Linked DNA regions of Homo sapiens. The protein of the gene in region 2 purifies or fractionates together with the protein of the main gene of each other region. This does not show direct contact. Each region holds a gene or a part of one and is shown on either strand. Other genes may lie near its edges.

The links.
Region 1: the proteins of SOCS7 (region 2) and CUL5 purify together in Homo sapiens (affinity purification with mass spectrometry; 5 studies listed by BioGRID and IntAct, with this or other methods). This does not show direct contact.

The regions. Positions count from the first base shown.
Region 1 is NC_000011.10:108,102,758-108,108,411, reverse strand, and holds the end of CUL5 (cullin-5), read right to left. Parts: intron 4,223-5,654; coding exon 4,028-4,222; 3' UTR 2,206-4,027; coding exon of another isoform or gene 2,125-2,205; 3' UTR 651-2,124; downstream 1-650. UniProt on the Homo sapiens protein: Core component of multiple cullin-5-RING E3 ubiquitin-protein ligase complexes (ECS complexes, also named CRL5 complexes), which mediate the ubiquitination and subsequent proteasomal degradation of target proteins.
Region 2 is NC_000017.11:38,389,564-38,396,853, reverse strand, and holds part of SOCS7 (suppressor of cytokine signaling 7), read right to left. Parts: intron 1,546-7,290; coding exon 1,410-1,545; intron 1,007-1,409; coding exon 886-1,006; 3' UTR 856-885; intron 1-855. UniProt on the Homo sapiens protein: Substrate-recognition component of a cullin-5-RING E3 ubiquitin-protein ligase complex (ECS complex, also named CRL5 complex), which mediates the ubiquitination and subsequent proteasomal degradation of target proteins, such as DAB1 and IRS1.

The DNA.
Region 1 (5,654 bases), on a different chromosome or scaffold from region 2:
TTTTTTTTTTTTTTGAGACAGTCTCATTCTGTCGCCCAGGCTGGAGTGCAGTGGCACAATCTTGGTTCACTGCAACCTCCGCCTCCCGGGTTCAAGCGATTCTCCTGCCTTAGCCTTCCGAGTAGCTGGGACTACAGGCGCGCGCTACTACACCCGGCTAATTTTTATATTTTTAGTAGAGACAGGGTTTCACCATGTTTGCCAGGCTGGTCTTGAACTCCTGTCCTCAGGTGATCCACCCACCTTGGCCTCCCAAAGTGCTGGGATTACAGGCGTGAGCCACTGAGCCCGGCCCATTTTTTACTTTTATCTGCTATAAAATTTGAATTTTGTTATGACATAGCCTATCTTAGTTGATGAATATATTAACCACTTTCAGGTTGGAATTTTTTTTTTTTTATTACCTCTTCCAGGCATATAGCCACATGCTATCATCAGTGGAAAAGCTACATTCCTGACTGCTCTCATTTTGAATTAGAATTTGAAGTCTAATATAAATAAGTGGGTTACTTTTCATATTTCTGATTCCTAAGGCTGGCTGAGATTAATTTACCTTCAAATTTAAAAATATACCTACTATAAAAATTTTAATTAAACTCTTTGTAACTATTTTATAGTAGAACATCAACATTTTCTGGATAGGTAAAAGCTTTTATATTACATTTTTATTTTGCAAGAAAATAAATTATACAACTTAAAAAATAAAATCCAAAAATTAAGCAGTTCATCAAAATATTTCAGCCTACTGCATACAGAAACTGCTACCACTTAAAATTGTACAGCATTATCATCTCAGTATGTAGTGGCACACATTCAAAATCGTATAGACCATATGAGGATAGATTACAACTTAGAAACTAAAATAAATTTGTTCAACACTCCAGACAACATATAGTGTAGATGACAGGAAAGCTCTCATGTAATGTTTATTTCACAAACATGACCTTGGAAGAATTCATAAGACAGCATCCCAGTCACTTACATGAGAACAGAAAAACCAGCTTGAGTTTAAGATAGCAAATCTTTCTGTAAAACTAGCAAATCTTTCACCCAGACTGAAGTTTTAAAATTTGCCCTTTGAGCAGTGCTAGAGACATCTTACTGCAAATAATGCAAAATACTTTTTAACTACTCAGGTCATATTTTCTATTAAATTTAATAAAAAGTAAAAGAAAGAAAGCTAACATTTCATTTTTGGAAGGTTTAACATTTATGCACAAAATAAGAGCAAGAGACTTAAATAAAAAAGTTGACAGAACTCAGGGACCCCTCCAATAAATGTAAAAATTGGAAGACTTCAGAATTTATTTCAAGATCCTCATTTAATCATTGGAATAGTAATATTCTAATATTTATCTCATTGTGACCATCAAAATTTTTCTATATTTTTACTTCTTAAACTCTGTCTTATGTCTACTTACTCCGGCAACGAGATGGCAACACAAGTTAACATTTTCCAGATGGGATGTCTCTGTCTTTAAACTAGAAGATGGGTATTCAGAGGTTAAGATAGCCTCTGAAGTGTCTTATTGCCATACCACTAATTTTTAAAAATTAAATTTTTTTTTTTTTTTTGGAGGGGGAGGCTGGATTTTCTTTTCACTTAACTGCAGGTTATATCCCTGCTCGGCACCAATTTTAAGTGTACGCTGGAGAGAAGAGACCTGAATAAAGGATGCCAACTGTGATTCCAGACCTTTACAAACTGCTGGTAAGATTTTTTTTTTCATTTTTTTTTAAATTAGCAAATCTGTTGTTAAATTACTTAAAGAAAATTTAACAATGGCATAGGCACCTTGTCAACTAAATGATTTTCATAAACACCAAAAAGTAGTTAAAACTTTTGTATACATAACCAAAAAAAAAAAAAAAAGAAAACTGTACATTTACAGTATTTGCTGCTGTTCATTCCCCAAAATACAATTAGGACATAATTGGCTATTAAAAATTTATAAAATTTAATAAAAAACTTTGCTATGAATGTAGTGTTACCCACTTTTGCATTAAATTCACCTTCATAAATCAAAACATCATGACTCTCATTCTTAAATTAAATGACCCAAAATTAGAAGTTCCAAAAAAGTTCTGAGAACAATTATGGTTTAAAACAACAAACCTAAATTTTTAAAATGGACGGCAATTTTTCCTGTTTCCTCCTTTGGCATTCTTGTATTGGGACAAGCAAATACGCCAATGCTGAATTATCTGTTAAACATAAGGGCCACAATTACTACAAAATTATTTCTTCTAAATTCCAAATATACCCATTATGAACAGTCACCTAATTAGAGAAAACTGTACGTATTAATTTTAGTTTAATTCTTCACAATATGCTCGGTCTAATAATTGACATTTGCTACCTTAAAGTGTAAAATTTTAAACAAAATTCCAATTTCCTATAAGTTTCAGAACAGGCATTTGGCTATACTCAGCAAAACTCTAAATGTTTTAAAGTTGCTTTCCTTCCATTCAGCAGGCAGTTCACAAAGCCTCTTCGGATGGGGACAGATCCTACGAAATGCTCTTGAAAGCACTCCACTGTAACATAATACTGTATGCCTTTCTGTACTCCATTTCCTACTATCTTCAAAAACCATACTTTAAAAATATTACTTAACATCAAATAAGATATAAAATAATTTGCAAGAAAATTTGAAACGTGCACCACAATGAATAAAAATCCACGTTGAGCCATTCTTTCCTCAAGGGGAATCAATTTTCTCTTTCAAGTTGTTCACGTCCTCAAGTCCTAAAATTTCCACTACTCTGGGTATTCAGTTGCCAGCAACTAGTTAAGTTGCTACTTTGGATAGACTGAAAGGAACATGGTAAATGTTGCCTTCTGACGATTTAAAAAATGTTTATTTTTAAAATATATAAATATATATGTACATATATTTGGCAAGTTTACTGCTCGTATTAAGAGTGCAACAATTTTGCTTCTGTTTTTCAGGTCTTATGTTGTGGTTTTTCTCTTACCCCTAGGTGACTGATTCAAACCTGAGGCTACAAATCCCTAATCATGAGACCTTAAAATACCAAAATACTTCTATGCTACAGATTAAGAGATCAGTTACATAACTATATCAGAGCAGGAGATTTCTGTGTTGTTTTTAATAAATTCAGATATGGCATAATAAATATTAGGTATATAAACATTAAGTGTGTTAGTAAACACACAATATGTTTAGTAAACACACTTAATATGTTTGTTTTGCTATTTTGGCTCTGCAATCATAATGACCTACCTATCTCCATAAATTTTTTAAACTATTGAAGCAACAATTAATATAAGCTTCATTTTTCAAAACAAGCTTTCCAGCCATATTTAAAAAAAAAAAAACTCCTCATCATTTAACAACAACTAAAATAGCAGTCTCCTGCTTAAAGAAAACCAACATTTGAAAGTTGAAAATATTTAATACCATTTTTAGGTCACCATTAAAATCCAGTTATTATACTGAGCAATGTTTGAACAATTTGATACTATTAAATACTTAACTTCTCACCTACATCTGCCGTTTCCCAATGTTGCATTGACCAGCTCACTCTTTTCATCAAAAGAAACCAAGAGTGCTATTTCTAGTTTTAATTGCATTTTTTAAAAACAAAAGATAACAGCATTTTTCAGTGCATGAATATCTGAAGATCCTTCCTTGTGCAAGTACATTTTTTAAGAGAGGAAAAAAGAGAAAAAAGCAACAAGAACCCCACCCTCACCCTTCCCAACTGTATTTCTCCTGGTGGGTACAAATCAAATTCACTTTTAAAAGTTGATAATGGGCTCTTCATGAATGCAAGTTTCTCCACAAAACAGCATGCTGTCAAAGAGTGTGCAACATGAAGGGAATGCCATCATGCTAACTAATGTGATTGGCAAAATATAGTTGTTTTTGTAAGGTAAGGCAGAGATTTTAATATTTATGTAATCAAAGTCCAAATAAACCTTTCTCCAGCACAAACTTTACAACTTTCTGCCCAAGCACTCCAAAATTTGGGTTCTAAATATTGTCCATGATATTCAAAATTATGCCATATATATGAAAGTGTTGATATCAGATTCATCTCTTCTGATGTATTTGTGCTCTATTAGCCACTCTATTTGCTCTTTTATCATTTTCTTTTGTGGCAAGAACATGTTTTTCAAAATTTCTACTAATTCAGTCTGCAGCTGAGCATTACTAATTTTCTTTCTCATTTTCATTATTTGTATGATAGCTTCCTAAAAGAAAAAATAAAAATAAAAGCGCATTAATATACGAAATTATTTTAAGTACAACAAACTGAAAAATGACTTTTTATGCATATTCATCCTCTATCCAACATCTACCCAAATGAATAATAATCACTAGGGGATTAATGTTGAGACTAGTATCTTTTACTTAACAAATAAAAACATCTTTTGTTTTCTCATGCCCCATAAAAGAGAATCTGCTTATTGGGGTGGGGGGATAGGGGAGGGATAAGCATTAGGAGAAACACCTCATGTAGATGACGGGTTGATGGGTGCAGCAAATGACCATGACACGTGTATACCCATGTAACAAACCTGCACATTCTGCATATGTATCCCAGAACTTAAAGTATGTATTTAAAAAAAATCTGACTATAGAGATTTTGAAAAATAAGGAAAAGCAAAATTACCTCTGCTTCTCTGCTGAAAGAAAACTACACCTAATGTTTTAATATTATTTCCTTCAATTCCTTTTTTCCCATGCCATTCACATTCTTAAAAGTTATCTTACCTGTGAAAACAATGTGTATATAACCTGGTATCATGTTAAACATTAATTAAAATATAACAAACCCCTTACACCAAATTTTTCCCTTGTATTCAGTTATTTCTTTGTATAGCAGTACAGGTCAGGTGGGGTCTGTTTTAAAAGTCATTAAGTAGTACTCTTTATATATTTACCAGATTAATTAATTATATTTGCTACAAATATTATCTTCAGTTTATATTGACTCAATTAAATGTTTTTAAGGTTTTTTTTTTCCCCTTCTTCTCTTTAAATACAGACACAAGGTTTTGCTATGTTGTCCAGGTTGGTCTTGAACCCCCAGACTCAAATACTCCCCTGCCCTGGTCTCCCAAAGTGCTAGGATTACAGGTGTAAGCCACGATGCCCAGTCACTTTTAAGTTTCTAAAGAAATAAATCTTTTTCATCTAGGTCATTTTATCAAAATTTTTCTTGATGATTTCCTTAATTACTGTTAAGTTTACAATAAGAGTTATCAGAAAATCATTAAATATTCTTTTCTCTTTTACCTTTTCCAGTACCAGCTCTCTCTTTACCCAACAAAAGGCATGTATATGCCGGGTGTGGTGGCTCATGTGTGTAATCTTAGCACTTTGGGAGGGTGATGTGGGTGGATTGCTTGAGTCCAGGAGTTTGAGAACAGCCTGGGCAACATGGCGAAACCCCATCTCTATAAAAAATACAAAAATTAGCCAGGCATGGTGGCGTGTGTCTGTGGTCCCCGCTATTCAGGAGGCTGAAGAAAGAGGATTGCTTGAGCCTGGGAGGTGGAGGTTGCAGTAAGCTGAGATCACACCACTGCACCACAGCCTGAGACCCTGTCTCCAAAACAAAAGGCATATATCTATCTTAGCACAGATTAGAGTTTGTTGTAAAAGAAATGTCAAAATAGA
Region 2 (7,290 bases):
AGACTGTACATCTACTCCAGGATCCACACCAGAAGAAAGCAGTCACTGCACACTGGCAGTCAATCTTGCTTGTCACCACCACCACCAAAGTCATGGCTCCCTGGCAATTGTGTTCCCTACTCAGGAACTTGGCCCCACAATGTTCACTTTAGTGCAATTTAAAAGACTAATTGGAATTCATCTGCACAAACCAGTATTGCAAGATGTTTTATGGGAAAATAAATGGGTAGAACTGTGTAATGATGGGAGAAGAGCCTCGTAGATAAATGAATTCCTTAGTTTCAACAATTTACTTTGTAATGGCCCAAATGGAACGCTAAATAGAAGAGTGGGCTGTTTTTCCTCATCCCCATATTCCAAGCTGTGGGACATGGTGGAGTCTCACTGAAGTGCATGCCTGTTGCAATTAAAGGCATGTTTGCATTCTCTTTGATGAAGTTTCCTTTCCCTTTAGCTTCCTGCTTTATATGCCATTTGTGCAGTATCAGGGAGATCAGCCCAAGTCTGTATGAGAGGAGGCTGCACTCTTCTTCTTATTTTTTTCAATTACCCTCTCCTTGCCAGAGGCCGCACTCTTAGCTACACTTGGGTGTCCCCCTCCTTGCTCACATTCAGTGATTAGCTTGCACGTTTCCTGGCAATCTACTTTCTTGTCTTTCTCGTCTGTCTGCTTTTCTCCCAAATGGGGTGTGTGCCCCTTGAGGACTCCACGGTCAGATCTTGTCATTCTATGGGCAAATGCCTGGATCGGGGCTATCCATGTTGGGAGTTGTGGGGAGGGGGCCCAAGGCTCAATGCATGATGATGACTGCCCAGGAAGAAATGTGGCTGGGCAGTGAGGCAGAGAGCTCATACCCTTGGTGGTGACCAGCAGGGAGCCCCTCGCTACGTGGAGGGTTCCACCTCTTGCTTCTGTTTGGAAATGAGCTGCGCTTCCTTTAGAGACAGGTATACCTCTTCCTGAGGATCATAGTAGTAGAACTTTCGGATATAAGAGATCAGAGGTCTGTGAAAAACAAATGACGGATATACACAAAAGGTTTTTATACAAAATATAAAAGAAGTAACTCCTTTGTTCAACTCTTCTTCACTCCCTACATGGTTGAGACCTAACACAATCCCCATTTTCTCAGTTATTATAGTTCTGTCTTCCTTACTCTTACCACTTCTACTCTATTCTTCCTAGAGACTGCAGAAGGAAGGCTGACACACACACCTTCCTCCCTCTGGCTGCAATATGACAGTTCTAGAGTTAGGTGCTAAGACACAGGAAATGTGTAAGAATGACATCTGCAAATATTTTATGCCAGACTCTGCCTGTGAAGGTAGCTTGCAGGCCTCACTGACATTGTTACCTCCCCACAACCCCCTTACTCATTCCTGTCCCAAACCTGACAACCCCATTGTACTTAGGCAGTGGGAGATCTGGGATGTGATCTATCCTGACGAGCTGTCGTATCCGGAATCTGCAAAGGTGCTGGAGGGATTTGACATTGCTGAATCGGGACACTGGATAGAGCAGCTGGACAGGAGTTGGTGGCAGTCCTTCAAGAAAGAAAACAAAGGAAAGTATTCAGAGGAAACAATGGAGCTAACTACCATTTCTTGTATGAAGAGAACCTAGGGAGGGGAAATGGGACTTCTTTATGGTTCATATATGTATTCTGTGCAAAAGCCCCTCCACAAAGTGCTGTTGATTTCCATTTCCAGAAGCACCACCACCACATTCACAATTAAGGAAATCCATTCTCTGCCAAAGGCCTCCCTAGCATCACTTTTTTGTGTGTCTTTTGTTTTGTTTTTTGAGACAGGGTCTCGTTCTGTCACCCAGGCTGGAGTGCAGTGGCCCAGTCTCAGCTCACTGCAGCCTTGACCTCCCAGACTCAAGCAATCCTCCCGCCTCAGCCTCCTGAGTAGCTGGGACCACAGATGCATGCCATCGTACCCAGATAATTTTTGTATTTTTAGTAGAGACGGGGTTTCCCCATGTTGCCCAGGCTAGTCTCGAACTCCTGGGCTCAAGCAATCCACTCGCCTCAGCCTCCCAAAGTGCTAGGATTACAGGCGTGAGCCACTGTGCCTGGCTCCTAGCATCACTCATAACAGCTGAGAGTCCTGCTCCTCGGAGTAGCCCAATTATGCCAAACTAGAGACACTGCTTGGACCCAAGTGGCCAATCCCAGGCCTGAGGCTCTCGGGAAGGCCAAGAATCAAAAGTATCCCTGCTGGGAATGGGAGATACTTGTTGGGCACATCTAGCAGTATCCTGAAGGTGAGGACCCAGAAAAGCCGTTCAGAGGAGTCCCCACCAAATTCCAATTGGTTCAGCAGAGGCTGGTTCAGCAGAGAGGCTGGTTCAGCAGGGAGGCTGGTAAGTAGAAGGTAACAGCTAGGATCAAAGTTAACAAGCCTATTATTCCTGCCATTATTTCAAGCCAGGATAATCAGGTTTAGCTACCTTTTATACCCAACCCCCATAACCCCCAGTTCCTGCTTCTGAAATTTTAGGCCAGGAGACCAAAAAAAGATGATGCTTTTAAAAGAACAACTACAATCGCTTGGGCAAGCTAGGATTAGTACCGCTCAGTGCAAACCCGCCTGCTGATTGATGCCAAATAGACTCAATGGGAGTACCACACCCTTATGTATTAGCAGGCTCTGTGCTGGGGAATCCCACCCCAAAAAGGGCCCCACGCCACAGCATGGAGACATCCAGAATGGCAGGAACACTGGGATTCAAGGGAACTAAGAATATTTTGCTTTCAATAAACAAAGGGGCTATGGAAGGTAAACAAGATTCTTTGAGAAAATCTGAGTTGCAAAACCTGTCAAAGAATTCTCAGCCATTGTCATATCAAAAGACATTCTATAGACACAACTGATTGGAAAATAAAATATCTACTATTATTGGGGTTTAAGTTCAAATAGTTTTTTTGTTTGTTTGTTTGTTTTTTGAGGCGGAGTCTTGCTCTGTCGCCCAGGCTGGGGTGCAGTGGCGCGATCTCGGCTCACTACAAGCTCTGCCTCCCGGGTTCATGCCATTCTCCTGCCTCAGCCTCCCGAGTAGCTGGGATTACAGGCACCCACCACCACGCCGGGCTAATTTTTTGTATTTTCAGTAGGGACGGGGTTTCACTGTGTTAACCAGGATGGTCTTGATCTCCTGACCTTGTGATCCGCCCACCTCAGCCTCCCAAAGTGTTTGTTTGTTTTTTTAAGACAGAGTCTTGCTCTTGTCACCCAGGCTGGAGTGCAGTGGCGCGATTTTGACTCACTGCAAGCTCCAACTCCTAGGTTCAAGCGATTCTCCTGCCTTAGCCTCTCGAGTAGCTGGGATTACAGGCGCCCGCCACCACACCCAGCTAATATTTGTATTTTTAGTAGAGACGGGGTTTCACCATGTTGGCTAGTCTAGTTTCGAACTCCTGACCTCAGGTGATCCACCTGCCTCAGCCTCCCAAAGTGCTGGGATTATAGGCATGAGCCACCATGCCCGGCCCAGATAGTTTTAAAATTTTATTTGAAGGCATGAAAACAAAACAAATGAAAGCATGTACACCGCATCCCAAGGCCTTTCCATGATCACTGACAACATACTTTCCAGGGGAAAAAAAAAATCAAAATACATTATTTTATTGTTACTGAACAAGTTAAGCTCATCTTAAAAACATTTAACTCAGGCTGGGTGCAGTGGCACACGCCTATAATCCTAGTACTTTGGGAGACCAAGGAGATAAGATCACTTGAGGCCAGGAACTCGAGGCTACAGTGAGCCAAGATTGTGCCGCTGCACTCCAGCCTAGGTGACAAAGTATGACCCTGTCTCTAAAAAAAAAACAAAAATAATAATGATAACTTATTTAGTCTTTAAAACTATACTTTGAGGCAAACACCACCATCCCCATTTCACATATAAAGAAACTGAGGCCCACTGAGCTTAGAGAACTTGCTGTGGCATGGAGCCACTAAAGCCGGCCTGCCTTGAACACCTGCCCTAAGGAAGAATTATCGGTAGCTCTGCCATAGCCGAGGAACCTCTCAGCAGGGTTCTCCAGGAGGGTCTCTAGAGTGCCTGCACCTCTGCCCATCTAACAGGGAGGTTGTCCAGGACAGTCACAGCACTCTGGTTCATGACCAGCCTCTCCTAGTCCCCTCCCTGGCACTCCCACCCCTTCAAAACTAAGTCTTGTATTTTGAAGCCCTACTTCTCTCCTCTACCCACATGGCTGGTCCTCTCCATTAAAAGAAAAGAAAAAGAACTCACACGTGAATTTCTCACCTGAATATATTTAACTCAAGTGGTTTTAAGAAATAATTTTGGGTTCAAATGCCTCTTTGAATTTGTCCTGTCCCTCACTGGTATTTATATATTCTTTAGTAAATTAAACTGTGGCAAACAGAAAGCTTTGGGGGATTGGCTGTAATACTGGTAAACTCAACATGATGTTTCAGAGATAAAAGTAATTTATACATCTAATAATTTATTCCCAAAGATAACACTGTGCTTAAAGAGATCAGGATAATATGCAACATACAATTATCTGATTGTTTGCCTACTTGAATTTTAATGACCACATATACTTGCCTATTTAATTGTATTACTTTTAGCCTTTAGGTTTACAAATAGCAATTTGAAACCTGTTAATTTTCTGATATTCCCTGGTATTAATCTGACCATTTACTGTTTGCCCACAAACGCCAACAAACAATTAGAACTCTCACATTTAGAGCATGCTAACAGAAGCAGTTAAAAATGTGAAGAATCCAGGATAAGACCCAACTGGGACTAAAAGAGTAAGGGTGAAGTCGAACATTAATCGTCAGTAACTTTCTTCCAGTCCTCATGCCAGAGGTCCTGGGCACAAACCTAGTTTCTAGCCATGCACTATTTTTCGTTTCTCCCAACAAAGACCATGTTAGGGGTAAGAAATCTCTTCCAGGTATAAACACCCAAATACCCATGTCTTTCTGCCACACCAAAGGTTTTTCTGACCCCTGAAGACAGAATCAGATAAGGAATCACATCTGTTTCACATTCCAGATCTCATTTTCTTAACAGTGTAAGTAAAAAGAGAATAAACTAGGGAGTCTAGTTGACTTATATGTAATCCTCCAAGAAGAAAAAAACAAGCACAAGGTCAAAAGTAAAAGAAGGCCCAGTGCGGTGGCTCACGCCTGTAATCCCAGCACCTTGGGAGGCTGAGGTGGGAGGACTGCTTGAGCCCAGGAGTTCAAGATTGGCCTGGGCAACATAGGGAGGGAGACCTTACCTCTACAAAAATTAAAATTAAAAAAATTAGCCAGGCATTGTGGTGCACAACAGTGGTCCCAGCTACTCAGGAGGCTTAAGTGGGAGGACTGCTTAAGCCCAGAAGGCTGAGGCTGCAGTGAGCTATGATTGTACCACTGCACTCCAGCCTGAGTGATAGGGTAAGACCCTGTCTAAAAAAAAGATATTCAGCTAACAGTGAAGCACTGTTTTTTAATATCCCACTCCTTTCTTCAGCTTGAAACAGCTTAAGAAAAACTAAACAATAGTTTAGCTTAGTGGGAGCAGGGGTGAGAGGGCAGAAGATTCACTTTTCCTTATATTCCCTTGCGCACTATTTGACCTTTTTACCACATACATGTTATTTCACAATTTAAAAAGAAATACATAATAGAACTAATAAATGAGTTATGCAAGTTTACAGGATATAACATGAATGTGCAAAAAGCAATTAAATTTCTATACTCTAGCTATAAACAATCCAAAAATAATTAAAATTAAGAAAACAATTTACAATAGGATCAAAAACAAATACTAAAAAATAAATTTAACAAAAGAAATACAAAACTTATATTATGAAAAAATATGGGCCAGGCACAGTGGCTCATACCTATAATCCCAGCACTTTGGGAGGCTGAGGCAAGGTGGATGGCTTGAGCCAAAGGGTTAGAAACCAGCCTGGGCAATGCGGTGAGACCCCATCTCTACTAAAAATATAAAGATCAGCTGGGCATGGTTGTGTGTGCCTATAGTCCCAGCTACACAGGAGGCTGAAGTGCAGGACACACTGGGCCAGGGAGGTGGAGGTTGTAGTTAGTGAGCCAGGCACCACTGCACTCCAGACTGGGTGACAGTGGGACAAAAAAAAAAAAAAAGACAGAAAGAAAGAGAAGGAAGGAAGGAAGGAAGGAAGGAAGGAAGGAAGGAAGGAAGGAAGGAAGGAAAACGAACAAAAGAAAAAATATAAAACATTGTTCAAAGAGTTTTTAAAAAGACCTAAATAAGCAGAAAGACAGCCTATGTCCATGGATCAGAAGACATAATATTGTTGACATGCCAATATTCCCTCCCCAAATTGATGTACTGACTCAACTCCACACTCTTGCCAACATGGGGGTATTAAAATCTCAGTAGGCTTCTTTGCAGAAATTGACAATCTGATCCTAAAATTCATATGGAAATGCAAGAGACCCAAAATAGTCAAAACCAACTTGAAAAACAACAAAGTTGGAGACTCACACTTTTCCATCTCAAAAAGTACTACAAAACTATAGGAATCAAGACAGTAATGGCATAAGGATGGACATACAACTCAATGGAATAGAACTGAGTCCGGAAATTAACCTTCACAGTTACAATCAACTGATTTCAACAAAGATGCCAAGACAATTCAATGGGGAAAGAGTATCTTTTCAACAAATGGCGCTAGAACAACTGAATATTCACATGAAAAAGAATAAAGTTGGACTCCTTTCTCATGCCATACACAAAAATTCAAGGCTGGGTACGGTGGCTCACACCTGTAATCCCAGAACTTTGAGAGGCTGAGGTGGGAGGATCACTTAAGGCCAGGAGGCGGAGGTTGCAGTGAGCCACGATCGTGCCACTGCACTCCAGCCTCGGTGACAGAGAGAGACTCTGTCTCTCTCTCTCTCACTCTCTCTCTCTCTCTCTCTCTATATGTGTATATATATATATGTACATATATATATATATGTACACACATACACACCAAACAAAAAAATTAAAAAACAAAAATTAACTCAAAACGGATAGTAGACCTAATGTAAAAGCTAAAAGTTTAAGTCTCCTAGAAGAAAATATAGGCATTAAGCTCCATCACCTTTGGTTAGGCAAACTTTTCTAAATATAACAAGCAAAAAAAAAAAAAAAAGTTGGAATAGGAACTCATCAAAATCCTTCATGCTTCAAAGAATACCATCAAGAAAGTAAAAAGACAACCCACAGAATGGGAGAAAATATTTGTAATTTATATCTGACAAGGGACTTGTATCCAGAAT